4 linked regions of the Homo sapiens genome follow. The protein of the gene in region 2 purifies or fractionates together with the protein of the main gene of each other region. This does not show direct contact. Each region holds a gene or a part of one and is shown on either strand. Other genes may lie near its edges. The genes, in order: RAP2A, MAP4K4, FGFR1OP2 and STK24.

What was found.
Region 1: the proteins of MAP4K4 (region 2) and RAP2A purify together in Homo sapiens (affinity purification with mass spectrometry; 2 studies listed by BioGRID and IntAct, with this or other methods). This does not show direct contact.
Region 3: the proteins of MAP4K4 (region 2) and FGFR1OP2 purify together in Homo sapiens (affinity purification with mass spectrometry; 2 studies listed by BioGRID). This does not show direct contact.
Region 4: the proteins of MAP4K4 (region 2) and STK24 purify together in Homo sapiens (affinity purification with mass spectrometry; 2 studies listed by BioGRID and IntAct, with this or other methods). This does not show direct contact.

The regions. Positions count from the first base shown.
Region 1 is NC_000013.11:97,429,217-97,437,772, reverse strand, and holds the start of RAP2A (ras-related protein Rap-2a), read right to left. Parts: upstream 3,605-8,556; 5' UTR 3,303-3,604; coding exon 2,989-3,302; intron 1-2,988. UniProt on the Homo sapiens protein: Small GTP-binding protein which cycles between a GDP-bound inactive and a GTP-bound active form. In its active form interacts with and regulates several effectors including MAP4K4, MINK1 and TNIK.
Region 2 is NC_000002.12:101,868,707-101,875,706, reverse strand, and holds part of MAP4K4 (mitogen-activated protein kinase kinase kinase kinase 4), read right to left. Parts: intron 6,086-7,000; coding exon 5,910-6,085; intron 5,413-5,909; coding exon 5,292-5,412; intron 4,214-5,291; coding exon 4,022-4,213; intron 2,061-4,021; coding exon 1,943-2,060; intron 1,626-1,942; coding exon 1,455-1,625; intron 1-1,454.
Region 3 is NC_000012.12:26,933,914-26,942,424, forward strand, and holds the start of FGFR1OP2 (FGFR1 oncogene partner 2), read left to right. Parts: upstream 1-4,556; 5' UTR 4,557-4,797; intron 4,798-8,511. Other genes in the region: INTS13 (integrator complex subunit 13), read right to left, coding at 643-717, 2,666-2,890. UniProt on the Homo sapiens protein: May be involved in wound healing pathway.
Region 4 is NC_000013.11:98,573,608-98,581,719, forward strand, and holds the start of STK24 (serine/threonine-protein kinase 24 isoform b precursor), read right to left. Parts: upstream 3,501-8,112; 5' UTR 3,180-3,500; coding exon 3,138-3,179; intron 1-3,137. UniProt on the Homo sapiens protein: Serine/threonine-protein kinase that acts on both serine and threonine residues and promotes apoptosis in response to stress stimuli and caspase activation.

The sequences.
Region 1 (8,556 bases), on a different chromosome or scaffold from region 2:
TTCATTCTCATGCCCTTTTCCATCAGATCCTTCATAAGGGGAAATAATTTCAAGAGAATACCAACACAATTCTTCCAAGGATTATTTTAACCTCATTGCTTTTTAGTCTCATCTTGAATATACTAAGTAATGAATTCCAAAATGCAATTACAAATTTATTTCTTCTAAAATTACATTTATATCAAGGGTAACATTTAAGGAAGATAAATGACAAAGTTATTAAAGTAAGAATGACAGCTAGAATTTTTTGAGCAATTTCTGTGTACTGGTATTGTTTTGGGAATGTTAAAATACATTATCTCATTTAATTCTAACAAGGACTCTGGAAGGTGCATGCTAATCTCTATTTCACAGATAAGGAAACTGAAGCTTAGAGAAATAAGCAAGCATTTCCCCAAATCATATACACCTTAGACCTCTGTTGTCCAATATGGCAGCCTGTGGCCACATACGGCTACTGAGCACTTGAAATGTGACTTGTTTGAATTGAGATGTGGTAGGTCAAACACATACCAAACTTTGAAGACACAGTATAAAGAAGTAAAGTACCTTATTAATAATTTTTGAATACTGACATGTCAAAATGATTCTATTTTAAATATGGTGGGTTAAATAAAATACATTAAAATTAATTCCATATATTTATGTTATTTTTAAAAAATCAGCTACTAGGAATGTTAAAATTACATATGTGGCTCACGTTATATCTCTATTGAAAAGTGCTGACCTAGACCTAAAGCTGAATACTGAATTTGACAGTAGATATCAAATACTGAAAGACTGGTAAAGAAGAGGCCACCTGCATTCACATGTCCTCTCCATCAATGATGGGAAGCCAGACGCTGGGGTTAGGATGAGGTGTAAAATACCTTACTACTACCATATTACAAAGACACACAAGTGAGGGTCCAAGAGGTTCTTATGTATACAACGGTTGAATTCTGGTGAAGAGAATTTATGAACTCTACTTCAGCTGATCAATGATCTTTTTATATCAAGAACTGAGACTAGTGAGTAAAATGATACTGGGCATGCAGAATTTTACTCTATGTTTTTCCTCTGGGTCATAGTGAAAATAAACAAATTGCTCCAATATGCTGAGTTTAGACTAACCTATTATTATAACTGAGAAAAGTAATCTGCACTAAATTACAAGAAACTACAAAATTATGTGGACCATATTATCCAATAATATTTTGCCATATTTGTTCCCTAGGCTTGTGTCAAGAAGTTAGCCATGGGTATGTGGCTTTATCAGTGTATATGTGCATCTTCATATCTTTAAGCATATATATCTAAATGTGAAGGGTGAGGCTGTTGGGGCATTTACTTAGATTATTTTTTGATGTATGCATTTGGCCTAACATTGACATGTGGCAATGTATCAGACTACCCTGCAGTTGGTTTGGTTTGTTTCTTTTTAATTGAGTGGTTGGGGGAGGGGGTAATAAGAATTTAAGTAACTTAAATGTAGCCCCTTAAATGCCATCCTCATACTAAGTTTAACACCAGAATTGTTCATCTCTTAACTATAAACATTTAACTTTAGGAAAATGATACTGGAGAAGTACAAAGCTATCAAATTTACAAATCTTAGCAGCAGAGACCACGAAAATATCTGCTTTATTCTAGTTTGGAATTTAACACAAGGATGAATAACATGCACGATTTTAGTTCAGCGATTAAAGTGCATACTCAGTTAAGGGGGGGTGGAGCAATAGAGAGAGAGCCTTCTCTTTGATCTCATAGGTTGCATTAAAAACTCACTACTCGTAATGAATTTTTGATCATCCCCTGGGTACACATAACTTGGTCCTTGCTCTTTCAAAATGAGTGGACTCAAACTGACTTACAATGTGACTGTGTCTACGGTGCACTTACAACCATCTTTCAGTAAAGGTCTTCAGATTTAGGCTCTAGGTAGAATAAGGCAGGAAAAAAAGGACACCAAAATTATCAGCAGGCATTAACTAACAAGAACTAGATGAAACAGTAATGTGTAATTAAATGATAATTAGAAAAATTTGCCAAAACTTTGAACTAAGATATTATCACATTTCTAATGCTTAAAATTACACGGAAAAATATATTCAGTGAATTTAAGAGAAAACAAACATTTTAAATCATTTATCAGCCATATTTCCAAAATGTATACTTTAGAAAAGAATTTATATATATATATAAAGGCTTATTAACATTAACTTTAAATTAGCTAATACTTGTGTCACACTTTTGAAGAAGCTTCTGTTTTGTTTCCAGGAACTGGTGGTGGTGGTGTGGTGGTGTTTTTTTTTTTTTTTTTTTTTTGGAAGGGGTTAAGGCGGCTATATTAAAAACAAAAAAACAAAAACAAACAGTTAAGCTGCATTCTTTTCCTGTGAATGGCTTATTTGTACTCCTCTGTTAATATTCTCGAAACCCCATTTAGCTTATGATGTCTTCAAATAATTTAATAATCTGTCTTTAAAGTTTTGCACTAAATTAGAGACTTAATTTTTGTAAAACGCCTTGGAACCATAAACCTTTAACGAGATGAGAAAGGTCTCCTTCCTCTGGACTTGACTTTACTGTATAGGTGTGTGAGCGATTTTTACTGTCAAACATTGCCAAGGCAGATTGTTGTTGTTCAGTCTGCAAATGTCTCGACTATACCTGCACAGTTCCTCTCTTCCCAAGACAAATCTATCCACCCCTTTCCCCCCTGCAAGTTTTAAACTTTGTTTCCTTGGGGGCTCTGTAACAAGCAATGCTAACAACGTCCAAGAGACAAAGAGCTGTTCTGTGGGCTAACACGATGCCAAATTTTAGTTGTGAAACAAAGCACTCAAATTTGAGATTGAGGAGGAGGAGCAGAATGACAATAGTAAAGCCTCCAGCTTGGAGCCACCCCCCAGAAAGCCCCTTCCCCGGAGCCCCGCGCGGGGAGTTCCAGCCCCGGGACGGTGACTCCGGGGTGCAGCCGCCAAGCCCCCGTGTGCCCTCGCTCACCGCTTCACGCGGATGATCTGGTCCCGCATGGGCTTGATGTCCTGGAAGCTCTGCTGGTTGACGAGGCTGTAGACGAGGATGAAGCCCTGGCCGTTCTTGATGTACAGGTCCCGCATGGACGCGAACTGCTCGGTGCCCGCCGTGTCCAGGATCTCCAGCACCGACGGCGACGAATCCACCTCGATCTCCTTGCGGTAGAAGTCCTCGATGGTGGGGTCGTATTTCTCGATGAAGGTGCCGGTCACGAACTGCACGGTCAGGGCGGATTTGCCTACCCCGCCCGAGCCCAGCACCACCACTTTGTACTCGCGCATCGTCCCTCCGCGGCCGCCGCCGCCGCCGCCGCCCGCGACATAGACCTACGCCGGCCGCGCTGCGCCCCCAGCCCCGGCCCCGGCGGCCCGCCCCGCCGCCTCCCGCTGCCGCCCCCACCTCACAGCCGCGGCGGCCCCCTGGGCGCCGGCGGCGGCGGCGGCAACTGAGGGAGCAGCGGCCCTGGGCATGGGCCGGGCCGAGCCGGGCGGCGATGCGGCCCCGTAGGCACCGGGTGGGACTGAGGGCGAGCAGAGAGAGAGACCGGGAGCCGCTGGTGCCGCCCGAGCCGCGGGCCCGCAGTGCCGCCCGCCCCGCCCCTCGCGCCTCCACGCCCAGATCCCCGCCCGCCGCCGCCGCCGCCGCCGCCGCTACCCCCAGCGCTCGAGCGCGCGCCCGAGCCCCAGCCGCAGCGCGGCCAGGGGCGGGGTCCGGCGGCCGGGGCGGAGCCCGCGGCGCAGCCCCGCCCCCGCCCCCTAGGCGACGGGCCGCGAGCGCTCCCGAGAGGCTTTGCGGGGCTCGGAAGCTTCTGCCCGCGCGGAGATAAACAAGCACCGCGACCGCCGAGCAGCGCCGAACCCAGCGCGCCCAGTCAGACCCCAGGGCCTGTGTACCGAGCATGCGCAGTTCCCGCCCAAGCCAGGAGCAGCGTCAACCTGAGACTCCCGAGACATTAAGAATTCGGAAGGGATGAGATGGTAGAGGGGCTAGAGCTACCTCCAAGCTTTATCCTGAGGCGGGGAGTGAAGGAGAGATGCCCAAGGCCCAAGAGGGGCCGCGAGGGCCTTTGTCCGATGCCACCCAGTCTGTCAGCACTCCTAGAGCTTTGGTTTTATCTTGTATTAGCATGTGAAGCTTTAAGGGGGGGGCACCTACAGGCTTCTGACTGAAGTTGTGTAAACGCAACAAAATGAAGCTTTGGAGCGTTAGGACATTGATGGGAGGGTGACGCCCCCCTCTAGCAGCGCGCCAGAGGGGCGAGTCAGAGGCGGCCACACACCACGGAAGTCGGGTCCAAGCCCGCTGACGTCGCCGGGGTCCCGCCCACCAACCCTCTGGACCCGCCCACATTTCTTCTAGACCCGCCCCTTTCGGTGCCGAACTGAAGTCGAGCTCTTCCCACGCCCTGTCAGCCACGGGTGAGTTGAAAACCTGGAGAGCGGAATCCCGAACGGCAGCCGGAAGGCCCTGGACTCCTCATAGCAACAGCCAGCTAGGGGCATCTAGTGGGAAGCTGGGATTCATTCTAGCCAACCACATCACGTCTCTGTACCACAAGGTACCATTCACGACCAATAAGAGAGCGCCCCCATACCACGTGCCTTTACTCCTTCAACCAATCGAGAAAAACGCTAGTCGTAGGATCCGCAAGCCCACCTCCCAGTGCCTTGCCAGGCGGGGCTCTTCGCGCACGCTCTGCCAACCAATCGTAGGTGAGCTGGCGAGTGACGGAAGCTTCGGCCAAGCCAACCAGAGCTCGCGAGCCCCTTGCCACCGAGGCCGGCGGGATGGAGACAGGGACCGGCTGCTGGGGTTTGGGAGGGGCAGAGATTGAGGAGCCAGTTGCTGTGCCCTGTTCTGGCAAAAGAACAAGATGCGTTGCAAGCCAGAATGATGAATTCCACTTTTCACGTCGCCTCCGTGGCATTCTGCCTAAATGATGGGCATGGAAATGGTGCTGAGGGATGTGGGCTGAATCGAGAACACAGGGACTTTTGTCTTCAGGGTGAGAAATGTTCCGGTCCTTAAGGAAACATCGTGCAGCAGTTGCATGGGTCTTCCAGGCGTTCCTCCCAAAACATTATTTTTTTTCTTTCACTATTGAGTTTTAAAACTTAGCGTTCTGTCGCTAGCATTGCATCTTAGTTACACATCCTCTCCCACCCATAACGTCAAATTTAGGAGACGATACATCCCCAAGCTTTCCTGCATTATTTTTTGCAGTAACTGGTTATTCAGTTTACTTTCTTTAAACTATGTCCTTCTCAAACTAGTCTCACCTGTTCGTTACTGTCGCACATTTCCTGCGAATAACACGTTTCTGTAGTTCTGTTGTTAGAGCCTGGCATACCTCTCCCCGTTCCTCTTTCCCACAAGGTCATCATGCAGAGGGGATTTTGGTCTGAGTTAAAAGCCAGGTATTCTTTCACCATCTTTTCTGTCGATAGTCAAACTACTACAAAGACTACTCAAATTTAGTAGTTTCTTATTTCCCTATAGCTTCGTTATATTAGAATGGATAACTTATATTTGCATTACCTTGCTGTAATGAACACACACCAAGTTTTCATTTAAAATTATCAAGGACAAATGTCCTCTGAATTTAAAAATGTGTATGTAGTAAAATATAACTCAGCATTTCTTGATTACATATCATTAAAATATGAATGGTACTATCTGAGCCACCAGAATCAGCAGTGAAGGTATTATATTAATAAAAAGGACTAAGAATCAGGACTGTTTTAAGGGAACTGGAACCGAAGAGGATCTACTATTTCATCCTAGGCTAGTTAACATGAAATAGTGAATTAAAATTGAAAGAGCTTACATGGATGCTTCATATCTGAGCTACTTTGGCAGGGATGTTTCAAGAGGATGTAGGTAAGTATGGTGTTCACCTAGCTTTCCAGAAGTCTCATATTTTGTGTAAAATTGGTATGCTTATTCATGGTTACTTTGGGTTAGTAGAAGCTATACTTCTTTTCCAAGGAAAGACAGACTGTCTTAAGATTCTAACTGTGCATCTTGGTGATAAGAAGTTCTTAGGGTTGTTAAATAGAGCCAGGAAGCGTGAAGCTTTCTCTCTAGATCATGACAACTCATCTAGTACCTTGCATTACAAAGGAGCTCTAAGTCCATTTACTTTGCAAGGAATGAAGTTCCAGTGATTAATGTTTTTGAGAAATTTGTATTGGGATTGTGGGGTCCAGAAGGTTGCCTTAAGTAACTGTTTTCATGACTCCTAGGTCCCTAGATGTTGAGAAGCTCTGGATTGAAGCTGTCACAAAAATAGTGAGTGGGCTCCGTAGTCACTCCATTTAGCATAATACAGAGTAGGACAGCTTTGTGACATTTCTCAGGCTATTTCCCCTGACCTCTCATCAATGCTGACGTTTTTGATAAGAAGGGGTATAGAGACTGCAGCCCTTGGGGTGGTTACAGTTCATTTATTTACAGGCCTTATATTGACAGGCCTCAGATTTCATGCTCAGTACCATAAAGGTTGATTTTTAACCACCAAGAGGCAAAAGAAACATGACAGGTCGGAGCATATTTTCTCACCTATTCTGGCTTAAATGATGGTACTTACCTGATTTGTGGTTGTAGGTGAAATGTTGGGTGAAAGATTAGCTGCTATAAAAAGGATGTCAGGACGTGTAGAGAATTTAGAGGACTTGGGTGGGAGATGGATGTCTATTTTCTAACCCCTTAGTCATGTTCATTCCGATGCCAGCATAAACTCTATTTTGAGATGATTATAGAAATAACTTATATCTTCATTTGTTTGTGGGAAATAAAAAATAAAAATGATATAAAAGAAATTTGAATTATTCCCAAGAGCTGTAAATCTGTAAGATAGTGAAAACTTAACGCAGTAACTGACACTGCAGGATCCCTTTAGTTTCCAAAGTGCATTGCCAGGAGAATAAAAAGAAAGAAAATCTTCATTTCTCCTCTCTCCACTAAATCTGAAAGGGAGTTATCTCACCTATAGCCAGATACCTTCAATTATCGCACTTGTGTTACCGTGGAAACCCAAGTCCATCCTTTCTTTCTGTAAAAGGTGTTGGAAAAGGTGGTATGAAGTGGGAAAGGTACTGTATTCTGGGACTTCCTGACACCAGCAAGAAGCAAATATGCAGATAATTTAATAGAAACAAATTAGTAGAGGATGTTTGTAATGCGAGGGGTACTTTTCGACTGTAAAACCCTGATTCCTAATGCTTCTTATTAAAGCCTGCATGCCTCTGATTAAACATAAAGGGGAAGGGCATGTCAAGTACATTTAGCACCTGTGAAACGCTGCTGGCAAGTATAAGGAGAGCAGACGATGGTTTCTTGACCTGTGAGGCTCCTAATACAGTTGAGAATCTGCAGTATATATGTGGAGTGGAAAGGAAGGGGCAAAATAAACTTTGTTCTTCCTTTAAAAAATGTGATATGTCTCAGTGCTTTTGAAAAGAAAAGGAATTAGAATGCAGAAATTAAGAGTATGGAAACAACTCAATAAAAGAAACGTATGGGTGGAGAGAGTAGATGTTTCAAAAGGCCATTTTAATCAGAAAAAAAATCTGAAAGAAAAGACGTAATGATTAAAATGTAGGCAGAAAAAAGAAAAAGCCTGAAGAATCTTAAGAGCTAGAGGATTCTGCGGAAAACAGAGCTTCAGTGTGGTTCATTTAACAAAGCAGAAGAGCAGGCACAGTGTTGCTTGCGTACCCAGCAGTTTCCCTTTATTTTTGCCAAAGAAGCTGGGATGAATCAGGATTGGACTTTAATAGCATTGCTTTCCCTCTGCCCACGGTTAGTCCAAAAGTAGGCACGTGACTCAGTTCTTGTCATTGGAATGGGGAGAAGGCTGCTAGGGCTGGAGGGATTTCTAGGATATTGACAAGAGTGAGGAAATATCCCCGTTTTCTGATGTCGCTCTCTTTGCTTCCTGCTTTACACATTGAAATATGAGAATGTGGCCTCCATTTGGGGGCTATGATGCATTATGACATTATGGTGCAATACTGTAGAAAGCCAGCAACTTCGGATGGCCAGGGAGGAGGATGGGAAGAACCTAGGTCCTGCATGACAACATTGGACAGTCAAACCAACATTAGAACTGCCCACATTTGGACTTATGGCTAAGTAAACAGCTGGTGTCTTTCAATTTAAGTGTGTGTTGGTAAGGTTTTCTGCATCTTACAGCAAAATACATCCCACCTGTTAACAAAAAGTATGAGGGATTCCAGCCAAAATCGGGCTTTAAAAAATCAGCAAGCATTTGTGAGCACTTTCATTTCACTAATATCTGAACGATAGTTCAAAGATACTATAATATTAATTGAGTAATTACTGTGTATATTTTTTAGGCTCTGGGGATAAAACAATAAGCAATTAGCCAAAAGAGCTTGTATTCTAGCAGGAGAGACAGATATTAAGCAACCAATTACATGTTTATATTATAAAATAATGGTTATGCTTAAAACTAATAAGGAAAAATCAGGAATTAGAAAGGGTATATAGTAATTATATAAATAATAAAAT
Region 2 (7,000 bases):
ATTCCTAGGGAATTGGGCACATATCTGTGTGTACTGATTTCCTCAGTCATAAACTCACCAAGACAAGGAATAAAGTATTTGTGTAGAGGGAGTGAGGCGGAAGAATATCATGGCACATACATGTATGCCCACACCCACCCACACCCTATTTCCAGATAATCTGAAATAAATAATTGTGACGGCATTGAGAGAACAACGCTCCTACAGCCCTCTCTCTGTTCATGCCTGGTCCTTATAGAGTTGATTGAGTTGGGATTATCCCAACATTTGGAGGACAGTATCTACCCAAGCAATGCTTGTGGGCATAGTGACTTAACCCTTAGAGATTAAAAAAAAAAAAATGCTGTACAACTAAAAAGATTATCAGTATAAGAAAAATATTTAAATATGTAATATGTGATTCATTTTCATATAATTTTATTCTTGAGGTTGGCCATTCTGCCCTGACTATATCCTTGTCAAGGTGGAACTTATTTGAATATTATGCTTAGGTTTCCCTGCATATATCTAGGCAAGTTGATCTAAAACAGCTTAGAAATTATTGGTAGAAAAGACAGATATTTATTGATAGAACTGCTGCCAGACAGATACCATTTCAAAGGTTCTATTTTACACAATATTTTGATATTTTCCTGGTCAATCTTCAGTATCAAGTAGATTTTTTTAAACTCCTATGTCAAGAATCTGGTAATAACTACACAAAATATGGGCCTTGTGAAGAAATCCTATTATGTGTGTTTCTAAAAACTAACATATAAACATCAACCTCAAGATTTTACAGTGAGAAAGAATGAGGGAGTAACAAGATAAAGCTGAAGACTCTTTTCAAAACACAAAAGCTGCAGGTATTGTGGCACTTACACTCTATCTTCTACTTCTCCATGATATATTTCCAAGTTGTATAATTGTACAGTTGTATAATTTTATAAAGTACTGAATGCTAATAGTCAAAAGAATAGTCACTGTAAAGTACTTGGAAATTACAAGCATGAAAAATGAAAAACACTGGGTTGCATGTTGCAGTAAGTTTTTATAAATATACTTCTCCAACATTTCCACTGCTAGATATGATTGAATTTTATAGTGAGAACAGTCAACCTCAGGGTTCAGGGGTACAATGTACACTATTGAGTATAATGGGCTGATGGTTACACTAAAAACCCAGACTTCACCACTATACAATATATCCACGTAACAAAACTACTACAAAAATTTGTTTAATAAAAATAAAATGGAGATTAATCATGCCAATATTTGACAGTTAAAATGAGTGCAATCATATACATGTGCCACACCAGTCTGCTAATATACCACTCTGCATATAACAGGAGATGGACATCATAGAAGTCTTCCATCCTGTCTATCCACAAACTATTCAATGCAGTACTTCTCTAGAAGACCAGCCACCACTCAGAACAAAAATGAAAGTGTTGGAGTAGTGGCTAGACACCTACCCCATAAGGCAGCACACAGAATCTCAGAGTTAAACCTCTTCTTGTATTTACGAATCTCCGGGGTGTCACTCTGTGGCCTAGTGTTGGTAGGATTCACATTGACCACTGAGCCTTTCCGGGTAGGATCTTGCCTTATGGCTTCTGGTCTCATCCCATCACAGGAAAATCCCACTGAAACACAATATATTTGAAATTATTTTCTGTACACACACACACTATGCCTGCCTCCCTTCCCCAGTATACTTCAAGTAAATATTCATGTGGTATAACCAACACTTTGTCAAAGAGAAGAAATCTGTAAGCAATGTATATGGAAAAAGGAAATGGACTCTGCATCTCATTGCAAATAAGGCATACAACTGGGATGGGAAGTTTCTGTACCCGAGGTCTGTGCCTGTGAACAACCAGCTACACCTAAGCCACCCAAAAGAGCAACTCAAAGATAAAGTCCCATTTGTCAGCTGCTTTCTTGTTGCTACTGTACTTACCCACAGATGTCACTGTTGTTCCGCTAGATGGAGAAATCTGTAGTAATCTGGGGTCTATAAAAGGTGTAAAGGAGGAGGAAGATTTGTGTTTCTGGAGTGTGCTACTAGCGGACTGAGTCTGCAATGTAAATTTCAATGTTATTAATACAACTGGCATTTTAAAAATGAACATTAAAAATACACATTTCAATTCACTTCTATATTGCACTATTTCCCAATACTTTGCTCTATTTGCCTTGCATCATTCCCCCAAAAAATGCTCTGCGGGGAGCTTCCACGTGGCATAGCACCCCTCAGGGCAGCTTTACCTGGAACCACTGCAGGAGCCGTATCTCTACCAGAGACATTGCTCACTTACAAAGCAGTGCTGCAAGCTACCAATGAAATCTAGACTTCATGTGCCTAGCTTTAAAAAAAAATTAAGTAAATACTTATAATGAAACTCCTAAAGGAGGTCTGAAATGTCTTGATCTCAATTCACCAACTTCTGAATTTATTCTCCTACCCAAGAGTCCAAATAATCTATGCTGGAATATTGGCAATTGTTAATAATTGTAGTTATTTTAAATTGAGCCTCTTGCCAGAAAGCTACAGAAGCTTTGGCTACTGTTGTTTTAGGTGCATCACCATTAAACCCATACCAAATGAGGACTCATTAGTGAAAGGTGCAAATGACAAAAGAAGGCGTATCTTTTTGATCTTTTAGGAGCACTAGTGTTTTGGTTAATAATGTAACTTAAGACAAAAAAACACAAAGGAAGTGAAACAAATTGTTAAGTGGAAATGTAATGACAATTAAAAACAAAACAAACAGAAAAATAAATTTGCCGGTTTAGTGAGTTAAGGGTTATAGTAAAATACTGCACATTAGAGCGAAATGGAGCAAAGTTTAAAATATAAATATAAGGAAGAATGTGAGTGTAGGTGGGATATATACCTCAGGAGAAAAAAGGAACATGTCTGATCAAGTGCTTTTGTCCTGTACCATTGGACCCCCTCCATGGACACCTGAGGGTCACCATGTCCTAGAGCCCATGCCCTCCCCTAAGCTTCCCACCTGAACATCTGTCCCCTGGCAGCTTCCCTCCCTGTCCCATGAGTCAGGAGCCAGTCTAGCCGATGCCAAGCCTGTCTAGGAAGCAGTTGACTTGCCACTGCTCCTCCGGAGGAGAGGATTTTTCTGATTCTTTCTAACCTCCCTCAACTGGTAGATAAAGACACTTAAACCAAATCTTCTGTGGAATCAAATCACTTGTTTAATTCAATACGGGTGCTCAAGTGGGCTATGTCACTACACCTGGAGTATAACCCTGTTCAAAGAGCAAAGAATCACCCAGACTGAGCTAACACCCAGACCGAGCACCACAACCAAGCCTTCAAAGGAGCACACAGATTTCCCACACAAAATTTTAAATTAAAAACAAGCTCAAACCTTTGTCCTTCTTGCTTAACATCCTAATTTTTTCTAGGTTTCCCAAAAATAATTTGGCTTCTAAACCTCTGAGTGATTGTAAATGTCAAAGAACAAACTCCTTAACAGGGTTGGTGAAAACAAGTAAGAGTAATCAGCCAACAACCCACCCCCCAAACAAGAAAAAAAAAAAAAATCAGTTCTGTTTGAAAGAGATTCCTGTACAGGATAATAAGTTTGTCCAGATAAGGCCAAGCCTGCTGAACCGAATCTTCCTATATTTTATTTATTGGATAAAAAGAATGAAAAAGGCAGATTCCACAAATGACTATAAGAATTTCATGCCAAATACATAATACCGGTCTGAGGACAGAGCAATCATTTTATTTAGATTTTTAAAAAATAAACTAGATAAAGCCATGCAACTATACTTATCTACAGAACAGTAAACAGTGAACTGGCAAGTTTGGGGGAGCTGATCTAGGGTTAAGGGGTTTATATGCAGATCTGAAACATGTTACTTGGGGTTGGGGAGAAGGGTAGGTGACAGAGAAAGCAGGGTGGGAAGGGAAGGGGTGAGGGTGTTGGAAAGGTCTCCTTTGCAAACTAACTCCTAGGCAGTGCTGGTCTAACCCCAGGAAAGCAGCCAGCTGTGGTGCGAGACATACCTCATTAGCAGTGAGCTTGTCCTGGGGTGTCTGTGGGGACATGGTGGGTGTCGGCTGGCTGGAGGATGGGGAGGAGGAGGTGGAGGAAGTGGAGGAGGAATGGCTTTGCTGTAAGAGATCTGGCAAGAGGTGAATGCGACCGGCAAAGCCATTGCTCTCATGATGGCTGGCACGCTTTTGGTCAACTGTACTCTGTAGAAAAAACAGGCACACTTGTCTCGCTCAAGCGCTGCTAAAATTGCCTATGGCCCTATTGATAACTGCTTTAAGGTGCTGTGTGACTTATAAACTCTGCTAAATTACCAAGGAAAAACCAAAGAAATTAGCCTGAACTGCTCACACTTCCTCACCAAATGCCTAACTTGTGCCAACAGAATTCAAAGTACCTAATCTGGTGGCTGCACGGCTCGAGCAGTGAGTGTTTAATCTGGTTTATCTGTTGCGCTAGCTTCTGTTACCAAAACCAGTATCCTTTTTTTTTTCTTTTTAAATCTTTCTTTGCAAAGCTCCAGAAAGTACCTGTGGATTCTCTGAATCCTGGTCTTTTCCACATTCTTCCTACTTTCCATCCGAATGCATTGCCATAGCATGAAACACACTTAGGGCAAAGTCCAAAATACTAAATAGGTGCCCTGTTCTATTTAAATGAGAAGCGTATCACTTTAATTAAGTCTAAGCTAAGAAATGAACAGACAGTTATAAAGCTTAGTGATCCAAACTGAGCATATCTGGGTGGCACACATTTAATTATTCAACAAGTGAGAAAACTAACATTTTGGAACATAGAAGAGAAACCTCCCGAACCCTTCTGCTCTCCGAGTCTCTGGGCCTGTGATGAGGCTCGTCCTGCCTGCCTCACCCGCTCCCACTGTGGCACTGCAGACACTCAGAGCCCAGCGTGCTCTGCAGAGCCATGGTGGCTGCTCTGCCAGACTCCAGACCTGCTTCCTCACTCTGTGAGCCTGTTTAAGGACTCCCTGTGGCTTCTCTCCCGCTCAGACATAGACTGTGAGACTCAGCGCGGTGCTTGAATGAGGGCTGCCGCAGACATGCAGAGGAGCAGCGATGTGGGGTGGAGACTACTCGCTACCTTCTGGGCATGCAGTACACACCTGCCTCCCTAGCCCCCGACACTCGACACTTGACCCTCTGGGACTTGTTAACATGAAAACAGATGATGATGGAGAAACAGCATGAGTGAGTGAATGAGCAAGTGGGTTAATGACCACAGGAGAAGCTCAGCCTCTGACAACAGAGAAGACACGGGTACCTGGCGGACGATTAGAGTGCCCTCCTTGGATGGGGTCATGGCCGGCTCACTTTCTACATCATCATGGACAATCATGGTTTTCACAGATTCCGTTTCACCATTGCTCAAATTCAGAGATGACCTATGGAGAAAAAATCCAGACGTGAAAGGCCTTAATCTCTGGAGTCAAGGAGATCCTGTTTAGGCTTTTCGCCTTCTCAAAATCAAAACATGAGATGAGGCTACCGATATAAAGCCTCCTCCAAAAAAGCAACTGCTTAGCTTTCTCCCTTTAACAAAGAATTTCTTTCCAGTGCCATTTGTTTCTGAGCAAAAACTTAGAATGAATAATTATGGCTAATTAAAGTAGTTATACCAAACTGAAATTTCCCCTGGATCATATATCCTCAAATCAAAAGGAAAAAATAAAGTACACGCTGGGGTGCTGGGGGAAGCACTGACATATGCACACACCAACGAAGAGAAGGGGAAACACAAGGCGACCTGCTGCTGAATCCACGAGAACTACATAGTAAGTGCTCATGGGGTCACGGAATAGTCTAGGAACAACTAGGTCCCAGTGGAAAGCAGGCTCTGAGAGAATACTCTCATCCGCTCTAAAAGAGACCGGGGACTGACGCTGCTCTGGTGTCCTCTGGTCCTGAGGTGGACTCGTCAGCCCCTTCCTGCTCCACATCGTCGTCCTCCTCATCCGTCGTCCCCGACTCCTCACTGGATGAGGAGTAGTCCGTTACTTTGTGAGGTGGCCGTACATCTTCCACTGCTCGAAGCTCTTTGGCCAGTGCGGTCAGATCCTAAAGCAAAGGACAGAAAAGAGAGAGTAAGGCAAGCAGGAGCAGGGACAGGAGAAGATGAGAAGTTCTTTAACCATAAATTGCCACAATGTCAGTTTTGTAAGACTTTTATAGTTACCCAGTTTCATGAGAAAGTGAGCTCCTATGGCTTTTGATAGAAAAGACCAAATAAAGTCAAGAGAGAGATTAAAAAAAAAAAATAGAAGACACCAAAAAAAAGTCAAAGATGTCATATACAGTTCAAATCCCATGACAATAAAAAAAAGATCTGCTTATGTTAAGCTGATAGTATTACTGTTGTTTTTTAATATGAGGTAAAATTCTAGATCAACAAATGTATATACACAGACTCTTGGACTTTGTTGTAAGGAGATCTCCCTACATGACAAAGTCTTCTTTAGACTCATAAAAAAGGTTTTGAGAGACACATTTTTATTTTACTTCAACTTTTATTATTAAAAACTTCAAAGCGCTAAGGTTTAATATTTAATGTTTTTATTTACTAGTTATAGGATATTTATGAAATTTTAGTAATAAATATTAATATTTTACTAAAATCAACATTTTAGGTTTAATATTTTATTAATAAAAGTTGTAGAAACATAACTTCCCTCCCAAAACTCTTTAAATCAGGCTTATTTAACTAGAGGCTTGCTTTCTGGACTGACCCCTTTAAAGAAGACTTTGTCATATAGACATGTGTCTTTACACCAAAGCTCAAGGATCTGTGTATATACATTTGTTGATCTAGAATTTTACCTCATACTGAAAAAAAAAAAACTTCAAACCTACATTAAAATGAAAGGAGTGAAGTGAGCACTAGGATGCCACTGACATCTCACTTCACCGACTGTTCACAACCTGCCACATTCATGGACAAGTCTGTGACACATGAAGAGACACTGCGACCCTGAG
Region 3 (8,511 bases), on a different chromosome or scaffold from region 2:
ACTAACCATATATATTACTTGGCTTAACAGTGAATAATACTTTACGTAGATGTTATAATGCCAACATGAAACTTTGAAATAACCAACAATTCTGACATATTAATATTGAGAACACAAGGGAAGGGGACAGGCATTAGACATATGAAGGTCAGAAGTTCAAGACCAGCCTGGCCAACATGGCTAAACCCTATTTCTACTAAAAAATACAAAAATTAGCCAGGCATGGTGGCACACACCTGTAGTCTCAGCTACTCGGGAGGCTTAGGCAGGTGAATCTATTGAACCTGGGAGAGGTTGCAGTGAGCCGAGATGGCGCAATGCACCCCAGTCTGGGTGACAGCAAGACTCCGTCTCAAAATAAATAAATAAGTAGATAAATAAACAGAGAACTCAATAAACAGGAATAAAAACATGTTATTTAGAAATCTGGAAGTAAATATGACAACTACTAAAAAATGGAAGTTTGCTTGGGGGTGCTGGGTGTAGGGAAAGCCTAGAATGGGGATAGCTGTTTTCATATGACTTGGCATTTTAACACTATATGCAAATCCTAGAGTGATTTAAAAAATTAGTCATTTTTTTAAAAAGTATTACCACATTTAGATAATTTACAAATGGCCACAGCTCAAAATCTAACCATACCTCCTGTAAATTTTGGTCTTCTTGAGTCCAAGAATTTAAAACATGTGCTCCAGAGTCACTCACAATAAAATTCACCTAATAGATTCCAAAGAAACAATTAGTATTCAACTCTAATTTCACTCAATCACCAACATATTTTCAAGTAATATGCAATTTGTAACACTGTTTCACTGATTCATTCATTCTTCTTTTTATAGTTACAGAATGTGTAGTATATGCCAGGTGCTATTGCTGGCACTGAGTACATGGGAATAGAGTGATGAATAAAAAAGTTCTGTCACTCACAATGTGGGGAAAGTCAGGGGAGGGGAGTCTACTAGGACAGAAGGCACTGCGGGAAGAATACAAACAAATAAATGAACAAGATAATTTCAGAGAGTGATAAACGCTATGAAAAATAAGTTAATTAGCTACTTTAGATTAGGTGGTTACAGAAGGACTCTCCATAGAAGTGGCAACTGAAGGCAATCCAAAACCAGCCACCGTAAAGTCAGGGATAGACAATCTGGGTACGGCAAATAACAAATGCAAAGGCATCTAAGCATATACCCTGGAAAGGGTGAAAGTCAGAGCAGGCAGTGGGAGAGGAGACAAACTCAGAGAAAGAGGCAGGAGCTGGATCATATAGGGCACCGAAAGCCAAAATAATGGATATGGTCTTTACGCTAAGTTTTAAAGTAAAATGCAAATTTGAAAATTTAAAATTACCTGCTATCAGGTAAGATAATGACAAAGAACATTTTGGAAAACTTATCAAATGATGATTCTGACCCATGTTCCTTTTTGGCTAGAGGGTTAGATTTCTTTCTTTACTCTGGACAACACGATCTAATCTATGATCTTTTTCCCTATATATCGATGAAATACCAGTTTTCCTTCCTCCCCCAAGAAGTTTGATAATTGGTCTTCTCTTCCAAGGCTTATCTGACAGGGATATATTTTACAAGTCACTTTACGTAGATTTATCTCTTTTAAAGCTTACATCGAGGAAGTAAGTGTTATACTTACACGGGAGGAAACTGAGGCTTGGAGAGATTAAGAAATATGATCAAAGTCACACAGCTAGTAGTTAACCACGCCAAGGTCTGAACCGAAGCCTGCGCTCCAAATCAGTTACATTCCCTCTCATTATATATTTTTATCACACACAGAATGCACACAAATTTTAAGAAGGGCTTATATTTTAATTTGGAATATATGTGAATGTATAATATCAGACTATGTTCACCTTTACTCTACTGCCCTACCTTCCTCAGTCTAAGAATTGGCTAGGTCCCAGCGCTTCGAGTAAGACAGAAAGCAAGTCTTCCACTTGTGGCTAAACAAATGACTTTCCCAAAATAAGACATTTAAGATACTGAAATCTAAGATTAAACTTTAATACCTGTAATTTCTGTCAATCATCCATTTCTCTTCTTACTGATAAACCATATCCACTTAGCATTCTTAAAAGTATTTCTTTCTAATATGGCCAAACAATACAGCAGTTTAGTATATATTTGCTAAAATTGCAAGCAGCTAGCCAGCTTAGGTTCAAATTCTGGCTCTGCCTCTACGTAACTATGTGACTCAGGACAAGTTTCTTCTCTTTACCTCAGTTTCCGGATCTGCAACAGGGAAGCAACAAACAAGACTGACAGTCAGCTGCTACATGCCAGCACAGTTTGACAGCAGCTCTCAATGGTCAGTCTGTGTTCTATACTGGTTGTTACATACTTTGAATATTGCTTCAATAACTACAGTTCCTACCTAACATGACTGTTATGAGAATTACGGAAATTAATAAATATGAAGCACTTTGAAATATGTCTGGCACATGTAAAGTGCTCAATAATTGTTAGCTGTTATTATTACTGGCCCCAATTAAATATCCATTATATATTAATCCCAAAGGGCAGCGTTATGTACCACATTTTTAAGTAATAAACACACAGTCATTATCTATAGCAAATTCATATAAAAATTCATTTATGCAGTTAAGTACATCCCCAAAATCATGATTTTGTTTGTACTTCACACTCACCAGCTTTTTGAAAGGAAATATATCATACATTATTCTACAATATTCCATGGAAGATTCTACTGAGCAAGTCCACAATGATTTAGATATGGGGGCCAAAGGAATGATTCCTTGGGTTCTATTCTTCACCAGCATATCAAACTCGACATGCTGCCTGCAAGATTCTGCCATATAAGGGCAGTGATCCACAACAAACACTGTTTTATGAGATTCAGAAAAAATCTTCATTTTGTTTTAACCTGTAAGGGGAAAAACATATTAGCCAAATATTTGTACATAACATCTTACATTTTTTCTAATTTTCTCAAGAAGATTGTCTTTCCCTCAAGAAGACTTGGTAGGGAACATGAATAATATGTTCAAAGAAATCTGTCCGACAAAGGACAGTTTAATGAGGTCATGACCAGAAAGCAAGGGTATCAATACACCATATTAGGCTGTCACTCTACCAGGCCCAGACAAAAATACCAGTGCATGCATTTTTGGTTTTGCTTTTAAAATGAACTTAAAATTGTCAGAGGGAAACATTTTGACATTTAATTGTATTTGATTCCCTTACATATACGAAACATAAGTGACAAAGACTCTTGAAATACAACTTTATGATCCTTGCTAATTGACATTAGTCACATATAAACCCCAAGCCAGCATTTTTGCACTTCCCTCCAAGAAAAACGTTTGAAGGGGGACTGGCGGGTAGGGGTGCGGAATTAACAGGAAAGAGGAGTGACAGCAAAAGAAAAGGCCAAAACAAAGATAAACATCTCCTAAGATAACCGCACATCAGGTCTTCGCCTTAGGATAAGGACCCCAACTTCACACTCTCCCCTTAGCTTTTGAAACATCACAGTAATTTACCAGGTAGAGCAGAAAAACTTAGTTGTTACCATCACACTGGTGTGTAGAAGGAAATTTAAAACTTTTAAAACTTTTTCTTATTAAAACAGAGCATACGGTACTCCCCTGCTTCGCTAACAAAATCTTATACTGAATAGACAATCCACATTCGAAAAGCACATGGCAAGCAAAGCCAAAGTGTTAAATCAAAACGAACTGATTTCTTACGATCCAGCTATTTTCACCTCTTGCTTTCAAGACGCATCTCCCCTTCATGCAAAACTCTCTTTGAGAAACCTTCTAGACCCACTTTGCTGGAGGGTGGGGGGTGGAAAATACAAGGTGAGTGGATAGGGAAGACCTCAGGATCGAGGTTCGCTTACTTTCGTGCCTGGTCCTGCAGTGAAAACGAACAGAGGCTATGGACCACAGCCTCTCTGGAAAAGGCTGCTGGCTGGGCGGGGAGAGTCAGCGCACAGTCGGGAGTGTCTGGTGCCACAGACAGGGGACTATGCTTTCCCCGATCATCTCCTAGCACACCGGTCCTTCCCAGGCTTCCTAAGAGCAGGAGCGCGCGTGCGCGTGCACACACACACACGCACTCGGGCTCGCGCGTGCGCACAGCGCTCTCCGATAGCCCGGCCAAGCCTCCCTTCCCCCTCGTAGGGCCAGGCGTCCCAGTCGCCGAACAGGAAGAGGGCGGGGCCAAGGAGGAAAAAAAAAGCCTCCACCCCTCGAGATTTTCCACCCGCTAATTTTCCCAGTCACCCATTGGGAAGCAGGATCTGGGCGACCTGAAAGCCTCCCCAACAGCGAAGTACCAACCACGGCCCCCTAAGCGTACGACCCACCCACCCGGTCTCCCCTTCTCTGTCTCTCCACCCAGGCCGGTTTCCCCTGGAAAAACTCGCGAGACTTTGCGAGAGGCCGAGCGAAAGCCTGGGAAGGGAGGAATAGGGAGGGACATAGAAGGGCCCCGCCCTGCCTTCTGGGGCAAAGCGGAGAGTGGTCGGTTCTGCCCCACAGTAACGCGAGGAAAGAAATCTCGCGAGGCTGGAGTTCTCCGGGAGCGCCGGTCGGAGGCGGTCGGCGGAGGTGTCTACCCCGCCGGTGATGGCGTTGAACGCCACTGGCTTCCCGGCCTTCCGTCCGCTGCCTCCGTCCGATTCTGCGTCTGCTTGCTGAGGAGGCGGATTAGGGGGGCGCGGAGTCTCTTCCCTTGAGTGCATAGGTCCCGGTTGGTAGAGGGTTTGAGTCCGCATCGCCACAGCTGAAGGCTGCGAGGGACTAAGAGCAGAGTAAGTGGACTAAATCCAGGGACGGGAGCAGGGGTGGGCGAGTCGGAGGCGTCCTTTGCCGGGGCAGTCCTTCGCCGGGGCCGGTGCCTTGCGCCTCTTGAACCACCGGCGCCCGGCCCTGTCCGCTTCCCGCCGCGGGCTCCCTGCTCCTGGGAGCCGGACTTCCTCTCCGCGCCCCCCGACTCCGAGCTCCTCTTAATGGAGATGCGGTGCGGAAAGTTCAATGAAAAGCCTTGGCTCTAACCCTGTGGACACACCTTCCGTATCTGCTTTCATCCTGCCTTACCCACCTGCGAGTTCACCACCGGACGGGGGACCCTTTCAGTCACCTGTTTGCAGCGTTTAATGAAGATAACTTGTTTCTTGAAACTGCTCTCCAAGGGGTATTACTCTTTTCTGGTTCTCTTCCTGCCTTTCTTCTCTATCCCATCTCTGATAATGGTTCCAGTATCTGTCCTGCTATCCGAACTAGAAAACCAGGAATCATCATTGGTTCTTCATTTCCACTTAACACTGCACTGTATTATTTTTTTTTTCGCCAGAATTAGTGCGGTTGCCCCCTCTGCCCCCCGCCCTCCACTGGTTTCCCTACTATAATCCTTCCATAGAGTTATTCTGAAATACATATTTATCTCTGTCCTTTCCTTAAACTTTTTAGTAACCGTATTGCTGACAGCATCAAATCCTAATTGTTAAGCACATCATCATTCAGGATCTTTTACAGTCTGCCCCAATCCATTTTACCTTTTAGTCCTGCTTTAATATCCTACCATACAAGACTATACTGGCTATTTCCCCAAACATGCCATGCGCTTTGACAGCTCTGTACTTTTGTACGTGCGGATGTCTAGGATGTTTACTGTTCCTCTATTTTACCACCTGTCAAAACCCAATTCATAAATCATTGTCTTCTCAGACTCCCCCAGGTGACATTGATACCGCTGTGCTCCCAACGCATTTGAAACTTTTCTTCTGCAGTATTTATTAGGTTGTATTATTTGTTTCTGTCTCTCCTGCCAATTTGAACCTGGGTCTGTCTGGAATCATGTCTTACTCATCTCTGAGAAAAAGTCCAGTACTTGGCACATAGCAAGCATTATTTATATATACATATGTATGTTTATTGAAATGGAATAGTTCTAAGGAATTCACCGTAAGAGTTCTTCATCCTTTAAAATCATAGAATTTTGGGCCAGAAGGAACTCTGTACATTAGCTTAAAGGTCCCGACCTATTTTGATTATGAGAAACCCTGTACTTCTAATACACATGCAATTGGACTTTTAGTAATTGTTGGTTGAAATTATGTATAATGACAGAAAACTACTATGCTTTTAAATGATTTTGTATTTTATTTTTACAGTATCTATTTATATTTGAGAAATGGAGCAGAAATGTTTTAGACTACAGACAGTGCTTGGAGTATGTGCATTCAGGCAACTCTTCTACTGACTCCTTAGCCTGTAGGTTAGAAATAACTGGTTTAGATTAGGTTAGTTCCTTCTTGAACTGTCACAACTCTTTGAACATATGTATGTGAAACTTATATTCAGCCACAATTCTAAGGGAACGTGTAATTTTAAAAAAATCCTCCAGTGTCATTACTTCCAAAATCTTTCTTCCAAGTTTAAAAATTAATTTTCTTCAGAAAGTGTCTTTATACAGTTCCAAACATGTATTCATTCCACTATTTTCAAGGACAGTGAAAATTTTCTTTGCTTTCACATACAGCGATGTGCCTTTATAAATGCTTATTTTTATATGTAATTTATATGCGTTCTTTCTTGCATTCATAAGATTATAAGTTTATATGAAAACCATAACTATACCTTTTGGTTTTTTTATTTCCATATGGGTCAGTTCATATTATGTACTAATTAATATTAGAGACACATACCTGAACATGAAAAAATTTAAACTAGATTGTTGACATTTAAAGACAGATCTGTGGTGTATCAGTAGCCACAATATTTCTGTGTAGATGTAGTGGTAGGAGTAGTGGATTTGCAGATAAGGGAAACAGAAGTGTCCAATCAGTAAACATTCATTGATCTTACAATTAATGTGATGCCTAATTAAAATGGTTGCTAGGCTTTTATTAATTACCTAGAAAATATTTGAAATTTTTTTCGTCTTTAATTTCTCTTACATTTCATTTATATTCCTATTTATTTTCTGAGGTTGGCTTGAAAATTTTGACTTGAATTTCCTTAAATTTTTCTTAACCAAAATCTAAAAGTAAACAGCTGGCAGTTGCTGTCTTGGGTGGGTGGTGGTTTCTCTTTTATCAGCAGCAGAATGTTCTAAGCCTTCTGCCAGGAGTCTGACTGCAAAAGTCTTTGGGTGGTAAAGTGGGCGAGAATGTGACTAATGCAGAAAAGAAAAAAAAATTTTTTAACTTGCTAAAAAAAAAAAGAGATTCACCTGTAATTTGGACCCGCCTATAGAAAATAATGTAAGTAAGTGTATTATGGCCAGTTAAGGTAGGCACTATAAAAATAGGCCGAAAAGTTTAGAATATTCCTTTTTTACTGTAGTCTGTTTTTTAAAATTTGAAACTTGTTAGAGAGTTTGGAAAACAGTCTTCTTCCTCCCACTCCACTTCCTGGCCAAAAAAGAGGGGAAGCACAATGGTCTTCAAAAAAGGTGATAAAGTAAATGCATATTATAAAATATTTTAAACTTTTGTGTGTGTGGTTTCACGTACAGGAAATGAACATGCAAATTCTTAGAAACTGTTGTCACTGTGTTTCTGAAATGCTAAAAAAAATTATGCTTTGAGCTACCTGCTGCTTATAATTCCTTTCCCTGAATAGGTAGGTTTTTATAGTTAACAAATTTTAAATGTAGTTGATTTTGATAGTAGTATTTCATTATGCAATCTGGAGAGGAGAGAGTGTTTTTCATAAAGTGGATATTAATTACAACTTTAAAAAGCCAATCAGTAAACATTCATTGATCTTGTAATTAACTGTGACACCTAATTAAAATGGTTGCTAGGCTGTTATGTCTGGAAAATATTTGAAATTTTTTTATTCTTTAAAATCTGTCTTCATATACATTCCCATTTCTTTTCTATGGCTGGCTTGAAAATTTTAAAAAATATCTTGGATGTTCCATGTGTTGGGTAGGGTCAGAGAACTTACTTTTTTTCGTTTTCCACCTGATGAGATTGAGATTATTTCTATACAGGTAAAAAGCAAACAGGACCCTGGGAATCCAGTGTGGCTTAGGAATAGGACACTAGACTGGGGATCAGAAATTCTATTTTTGGTACTAGTTTGGCTCTTTCCTTGCTTTGTGGTGCTGTCATTCAGCTTTGTTGGTTTGTTTGTTTGTTTGTGATGGAATCTTGCTCTGTCGCCCAGGCTGGAGTGCAATGGTGCGATCTCGGCTCACTGCATCCTCCACCTTCCGGGCTCAAGCAGTTCTCCTGCCTCAGCCTCCAGAGTAGCTGGGATTACAGGCGTGCGCCACCACACCCAGCTAGTTTTTGCATTTTTAGTACAGACAGGGTTTCACCATGTTGGTCAGGCTGGTCTCGATCTCCTGACCTCGTGATCCACCCGCCTTGGCCTCCCAAAGTGCTGGGATTACAGGCGTGAGCCACTCAGCTTTTTAGATTTGGAATTCCTGGGTCTATTTTCTCATTGGTAAAGTGGGAATAACACTTGTCCTCTTGCCCAAATGACAGTATAAGGTAGTTAGTTATTGC
Region 4 (8,112 bases), on a different chromosome or scaffold from region 2:
CACATGAAAGTTCAATAAGGGTTGCTGATTGAATAAATTAAAAAATCAGCCTCCTATTTCTAATTTCTTTAGCCAATCTAACTAGCAATGAGATAAACTTTAATGTTTGCAAAAGTAACCATAAAACAGTAACACTGCATGATGAGTGGGAGTAGGAGGAGTAGTAGTTTCCAATCACAAATTTGCCACATAATATATGATCTCACCTTGGTCAGTTAAGTCTTCCTTGGTCTCCACATCTACAAAATGGTATAATATCATCTACATCTCAAACGGTACCGGTAAGAATCAAGAGGCATAAAAATGATTTGCAAAACATTGAAAAATGGTGTTTATACTAACATGGTTGTTATTTTTCAAGCATCCTTGCCTAGGCCACCTGAATTCACTCTGCTTTATTTTTTTATTTTATTTTTTTTTTTGAGACGGAGTCTGCCTCTGTCGCCCAGGCTGGGGTGCAACGGCACAATCTCAGCTCAACGCAACCTCCGCCTCCCGGGTTCAAGTGATTCTCCTGCCTCAGCCTCCCGAGTAGCTGGGATTACAGGCGTGTGCCACCACGCCCAGCTAATTTTTTGGATTTTTAGTAGAAACAGGGTTTCACCATGTTAGCCAGGATGGTCTCGATCTCCTGACCTCATGATCCGCCCACTTCGGCCTCTCAAACTGCTGAGATTACAGACTCTGCTGTCTTTCTAAGCCAACTCCTTATAAGCCCTGGTCAGGAGACAAGAAAAAGGGAGGGCTATGAGGCCTATCAGAGCAAGCCATAGAAGAGATACGGACTTCTCTCCTCCCATTTAGCAGACAACAGTCGAAAGCAGGTGTGTTTTTAATTGAATCTTCAGCAACAACTCTTAGGGAAGCCTCCCAGGGCAGTAGCAACTGCTAATTTGAAGTAGAAAATAAATGTGCTGTTGTTTTTCTTTTGTGGGGTGGGGGAGGAGAAAAGAATGTTCTTCCCCAAATGATACACTGTTACCATACAGTCTGTAGATGTACTTAGGTACAGGAATGACTGGCAGAAGCCAACTTACCTACCTCTAAAACTGTAAAACTGTAACAGCTGAAAATCTGATCATCTTTTCCACTGAGAAACACTTAAGATCTTTCATACTGAGAAAACAAAATAAAAACAGTTCCCATGTAACACAACCTAACAGATACATAATAGTTGAGAGGCAAAGTTATTAAGGAAATGTATCTTCTTTTCCCAAGGTTTAAGAATTCTGACCCACTCAAAAAAAAAAGTGAGGATAAAAATGAAAAGGTGAGATACTAGATATCACCTGGTAACCATCTGATACTGACTTCACGGCACCAGCCAAAGGGGCTTTAGTACCTTTTCAAACTGATTCGCTATCCACAAAGGCCAATTAACCTAGTAAGTGAGGCATTTGTGCTAGATTCCAACCTGATGAACACGGTATAAATATCAACCTAAAGGAAATATTGATAAAACTTTTTTTTTAAATCATTACAAGAGTCCTTTCTTGCTCGACTAGTAAGAAATTACTTTTTTCACCCAGTTCACTCTGACCTACACACCTCTAAATTCATACCAAAGCGGCTTTAGAAAATACCAAGAAACCACATCTGATTGTTACCCAGCAGTCAGCAGAAGTTTAGGTTTTGAATGCATGCTAAATTCAACGCTCCTTAAATGAGAGTCGACAAAAGAATATTCTTCAAGCATCTTCCCAGTCACTCTTAAGATAATAACTTAACTGTTGCTGCTTAAATGTATATTTATTTACTGCTTAAACATATATACACACATATATATACTGCTTATATATACACACACACACACACACACACATATACACACACACACACTTGGACTAAAATTCTAGCTGCCATTAAAGTGGTAACTTTGAGTTCCTATTTTTCCAGAATTCAAACCTGAACAGTGAAATCCAGTTTTCTTTTTACGGTTTCAAAAAAAGAAGGGAGAGGGATGATCTCACTGGAAGAGGCGAGCAGACCCCAGAGGCAGTCCCAGGTCTGGGCTCTGTGCTTCTCAGCCCTCAAGACACAGGGAAGGAGCCTGTTGGTACCTGTAAATCAACCAGTAATCTACTTGGATGCTTTTGGTTTTCTTCAAACACTTAACGTTCACTCAGCTAAACTGGCAGAGCAAACTTTCATGACATATCCTAACTGCATCCTAAGATTTCCATCCTAAGCATTTTGCCACCATTTCTGCGCCTACAAAGTTTACAAGAGTTAGCCAAGGACGGTAGCTTTGTTTTTCAAAGGGCTAAAAGCAACGACAACGAAAACAACAACAACAAAAAACCTTTAACTTATACATGTAAATTTGAAATTCAACTCCTCTCCCACTCCCCAAAAAGTCACTGGTAGGCCAAGGTGTCACCAAGTACCGAAAGAGAGGTTTACTGGGCGAAGAATTCCTGTAAATGCAACCAAGTCTCAAAGTGAAAGTCCAGGGTCCCGGGGCCGGGCCCGGGACCCTGGTGCGCGGCTGTCCGAGGGATTCCTCCTTCCAGAAGGTTTGCAACTCGCACTTTCCCCCGGTCCGCAGGTGCACGGGGGCTCCGGGCAAAGCCACTGCAAGTGGAACTCGCGGTTACCTTCCTCCACTCCACCCTGCCTACTCCGCTCGGGCCCGGACGAGTCCAGGCGCGCTCCCCGTCCCCGCCCTGCCCAGGTCTCCCGCCCGCCTGCCCGGGGGTGGGGGACGAGCCTGGGGGACGCGTCCTGGGGCCCTCCGCCAACCCGGCCACCACGCAGGGCCCCGGGACCCGGCGGGGGCCTCCAAGGGCATCACTCCACCTCACTTCTCCCGGGGACAGGGCCACCCAGGGCCTGCAGCTCCGGAAGAGTGTTGGGGCGAGGGGAGCGCGGAGGACTAGGCGCCCGCACCCCCACATCCGGACCCAGGCCGCGGTTCCTACGGCTCCTGCACGCACACGCCGGAGACCTCGGCCGCCGGAGCCGGCAGGGACGCCCAGGGACTCGGACTCGGACCCCCGGCCGAGCCGGGCGCGCGGGGAGCCAGGCTCCGGCGCGACCCCGGCCGGCTGAGCGTAGGGGGACGCCGTGTGGATACCGCCAAGTTGCTGCTTCCGCCCCGGTCGCGCATCCCGGCCCCGCGGCCCGCGCCCGCCTACCTGCATGCCGGGCAGGCCCGACTGCACCGGGGAGTGAGCCATGGCGCTCAGGACGGCCACTTCCTGGGACGGGACGGCCGGGCCGCGACGATCCGCGCGGGGCGGCGAGGCCCGCGGGCCGCGCGCAGCCCTCGGGCGGCGGGGCCGGCCGGAGCCCGAGGCCACCCCAGCCCTGGCGGGTCCCGGCCGGGCGGCGGGGGCTCAGCGGCGGGTGGCGGGCCGCGTCTCCATGCACGGCGCCAGGGAGGAGCTGCTGGGGGCGCAGGGCCTCGCGCGCACTGCCGCCGCCGCCGCTGCTGCCGCTACTGCTGGGCTGGAGCCGGGCGGCCTGGGCCCGCGCGCGCTGGCCGCTGGAGCCGGAGTGGGCGCGCACAGCCCGCCGAGCCCGCGAGCGCCGAGCGCGTCCCGCCCCGGCCCGGCCCCCGCGCCCGCCCCCACGGCCCGGCCGGGGACCCCGCCCCGCGCTTCCGGGAGGGGGAGGGGAGAGGCCGGTGGCCGCGCGGGAGCCCTAGGCCGCAGCCGCCGCCTGTCGGCCCGGCCCGGGTCCCAGCTGCTCCTGCGGCGCTCCCACGCCCCCGCGGGCGGGCGGCGGGGCCGGGAGGGGGCCTCGGCTGGGGCGGGCGCCGGGAGGGACCGAGTCGGGGCCGGAGGCTGGCCGCGTGCCCACCGGGCCGGCGCCGGGGCGAGCCTGGGCCGCGGCCCCCTCTTCCCGCCAGCCAGCCCACCCCGCCCCGGCGGCCTCTGGGAAAACGCGTCCCGGGCGAGCCCCTGAGGGCAGGATCGGAGTCGGGGGCACCTGGGGAAGGAGAGCGCCCCGTGGGGCCTCGGCCGGTGGCCTGTGCCAAAAGGCCGGGCAGAGCTGCTTCGGTGTCTGGGTGAAGTTTCCAGCCAACCCAAGAAGGAAACCGAAAGGGAAGAGGCCGAGAGAGAGGTTAATTCCTAGTGCTTTGGTTACCGAAAACAGCCCGGCTGGGACTGCTGGGCTGGGAACTTAGCTAAGCAGTGCGGAGGCTGAACCCCACCATCTCTGGGATCCGCAGCAAATCAGAAGCCCCCACCCACGATAAGGGGAAAATGGGGCGCAGAGGGCAGGGAGGAAGGGAAGAGAATGGAAGGAAAGCGCGTCTGGACTTTGAACTGCAGCCCTCTCCCTCTTTCCCTTGCCTCGGAAGCTCCAGGCCCACTCAGCACCAGTTCTGTCTCCTCTTTTCAGCCGCCTTCTCTCTAGCTACTGAGGGGAAAAGTCAGGATGAAGCGGGTCCCTCGGCCTCCAGAAGGTGTTTTATTACAGTCGCAAACAGGTAGAGCGGCAGCCACCCCAGTGATGACTCCCTGCTCCTTAGATTGTAGGGACGCTGGCACCTCACTCATGCTCCTAAGTGGCCATTTTGCGCCCTGGCTGGGCGAGTTAGGCAGACAAAATGAGCCCCCAAAAGTTTAAAGGCCTCCACCAAAGGAGTATTTCTTTTCTGAGGTGTCATTGTATTCCATCCACGAACTTCAGTTCCCCCGGGTGCTCTGGATCTGACATGGAGTAGGATGCTAACATCTAATCCCTTCTTTCCCTTTGGAAAGATGCATGTTTTTTCTCGGAGTCCTAGGGAATACCTTAGAATACTTTCATGGTTGTCATTGGTACACCCATCCCTTGAGGAGCCCTGCCACCCGTAAGTAGGACTGCAAGGAAATACAAAATTAAGAGAAGTATGAACCCTGATACCCAGGAACTTAAAATCAGGTGTATAAATTTTGTACACCTAAAAAATATGGTACCTAAAGAGGCGAACAGCAAAACAAGCAAGAATGTGAATCTTTAAAATGTTTCTATTCTTCAGCGCAGCCCAGGAATTCTACCTAAAGTAACATATCCTAAGGCAACAACCAAGAAGTGTGGAAGAATGCATGTAAGAAGACACAGTGATGTTTAGAATCCTGGGGAAACGGAACAGCCAAAAAGTCTCACAGAGGTTAAGTAAATAATAGCATTTTCATACGAGTACTATGTAGTCATTTAAAATTATGTCTTTCAGTACCTAGTAATGGGGAAAATGTATTCATTATATATTATTAAAGAAAATACAGGGTACAAAACACTGTATATAGACTGATCTCAAATGACTATATATATATTAATATATATGGCCTACAGACACACAGTCATGTATTGCTTAACAATGGGTATACATTCTGAGAAATGTGTTCTTAGTTGATTTTGTCACGTGAGCATCATAGAGTGTACTTCCAGAAACCTAGATGGCATAGCCTACTACACACCTAGGCTATATGGTATGACGTATTGCACCTGGACCACAAACCTGAACAGCATGTGACTGAACTCAATACTGGAGGCAACTATAACACAATGGTAAATATTTGTGGATCTAAACATGTCTAAGCATAGAAAAGGGACAGTAAAAATATTCTTCTAGGGTCAGCAGAGCCAGGGCAATAACCTGGCACCAAGATAAAGAGCAAGAAACTAGATGAATGGATGGAAATGTCTGGATGCTGATCTGAGACATTACCATGGTAAATGCTCAGAAATCACTTTGCAGTGGGCTAATTGCCAGCAAATAAGTCACAGCAGATGGGGGACAAAGGCCCATAGTACCCTGGGTATAAAAAAATAACCGGAATCCTAGTTTGTGTCCTGAGGCTAGTGAGGCTCAAAACAGGGAGATTCCGGCAGGATGTAACTTCTCTGGACACAGTGACTTGCATCCATTAGCTGGTCTGTTGCCCCGAACCCTGTTTATCTTCTCTCCACACTGACCATTGTTTCATCCTTTGACAATGTTCATACTGTTGAGCACCATTCTTATCGAAAGAAGGGAAGGAAGCAACATGGGAGTTACTGGTTCTCCTTGGCCCTATGCAGGTAGTACCGAGTATTCCCCATGGCAGAAGTAGGTCTCCACCTTATTTGTTTTTGCACAACAGAGATGATGCACAGGGCCTGAGCCCGGGATCAGATCCGGTGCAATTGCCTATTATGTTCATTCATTCACACCTTTTTTGAATACCAACTATTAATACATGTCAGATACCCAGTTCAGTACTGGGCATATAAACATTAGATCCTCAGGTGCCTCTTAACCCATCCTAGGGACCTGGTCTCCCAGAATCCTAACTTTGGATGAATACAATACCATAATTGATTAAACTTAGAGTGGCAATAGCTATCATTTCCACCAAGGAAAGAAAAGGATCATCCTCTCACCCTCTTCCTCTTGTCACTTTCCCTCCACCCCCAATGTATGATTACAACAGGTTATACACTACCGTAAGTCCAGAAGGAGATTATGAGAGTCTCCATAGAGATGATGCATTTTATGGTCTCCATGGAGATACTAACCCATTGAGTTATTTACTTTATCCATTGAATTATTTTTCTTCCCTGGTCCTCTTTGTCTTTTGTGTTCACTTAAGGACATCAGTCTGGCAATGAATTATGATCTGAAATATATTCTGGACCACAAAGAATATTTCCATACCCCTATATGGAGCCCCTCCAAATATAAAGCCCCTATGTATTTGCTGCCCCTAAGCTAGTTTGTACGCACTCTCAGCAGAGCTCAGAGAGGAACAGAAAACAAGAATTCCACAATCAATCCCTTCACTTTTCTTTCTAAGTTGAAAAGATAAACACCCCCAAATGCTGCTTTATAAAGAACAGCTAGACAAGTAGAGCATTAGCAATTTAAATTCAGAGATTAAAGAAAGGGACTTACATGGTGAACTTTAAAGGGAGAAATAGGAGTAGCTTGGATAAGTAACTAACAGAAGGCTTAGACAAATTTCTACACATGTTCAGTAGGTGAAGACAAATTATCAAGATCAGTTTAAAGAAGAATGTCTAGTCATTGTTGGATGACACAATAGCAAGAAAAGGTATGCCAAAGCCCCAGAAAAATATCCCAGCTACATTGAGGAATGGTACCAATAAGGTTTCATTCTGTGCGTGGAGAGCTCAGAGGGCAGGCTCTTGCAGGGATATCACCCTAAGTAGGTTTTCAGTTGCACCCTGCCTTAGTTTGCTAGGGCTGCCGTAACAAAGAACCACCAACTGGATGGCCAAAACGACAGAAATTTATTTCCTCACCATTCTGGAGGCTGGAAGTCCAAGATGAAGGTGTCAGCAAGATTGGTTTCTTCCGAGGCCTCTCTCGGGCTTGTAGCGGCCAGCTTCTCCCTCTGTGTTCTCGTGGTCTTCACTGTGTGTTCCTGTGTCCTAATTTCCTGTTTTTATTATTTATTTATTTATTTATTTATTTATTTATTTATTTATTTTGAGATGGAGTCTCGCTCTGTTGCCCAGGTTGGAGTGCAGTGGTGAGATCTCGGCTCCCTGCAACCGCTGTCTCCCAGGTTCAAGCATTTTTCTTGCCTCAGCCTCCCTGGTAGCTGGGACTACAGGCGAGCGCCACCACACCCGGCTAATTTTTGTATTTTTAGTAGAGACGGGGTTTCACCATGTTGGCCAGGCTGGTCTCGAACTCCTGGCCTCAAGTGATCTGCCCACTTTGGCCTCCCAGAGTGTGTGAGGCACCACGCCTGGCCCTAATTCTTTGTTTTTAGAAAGATACCGGAGTCGTACTGGATTAAGGCTCATCCCAATTACTTCATTTTTGCTTAGTTACCTTATTAAAGTTCCTATCTCCAAATACAGCCACATTCTAAGGTACTAGGAATTAGGACTTCAGCATAGGAATTTTGGAGGGACACAAGTCAGCCCGTAACACACCTCCTTTTCTGCAAATGTGTGTCTGGTCAGCCCCCCTTTAGCTGGGTCTTCCAGGCTCAGCTTCAGGAATGAGAGCTTCCTTCTCCCTTGCCAAGGCCTGTGGACCTTTCTGCGCACTTCACATTGCACACTTCTGCTAATAAGCATTGCTTCATATTTCCTTGGGTGTAGGCCTTAAACTTTATCTTGCATAGAAACCAGAACACTAGTCTCCAATCACTGTACAACTGA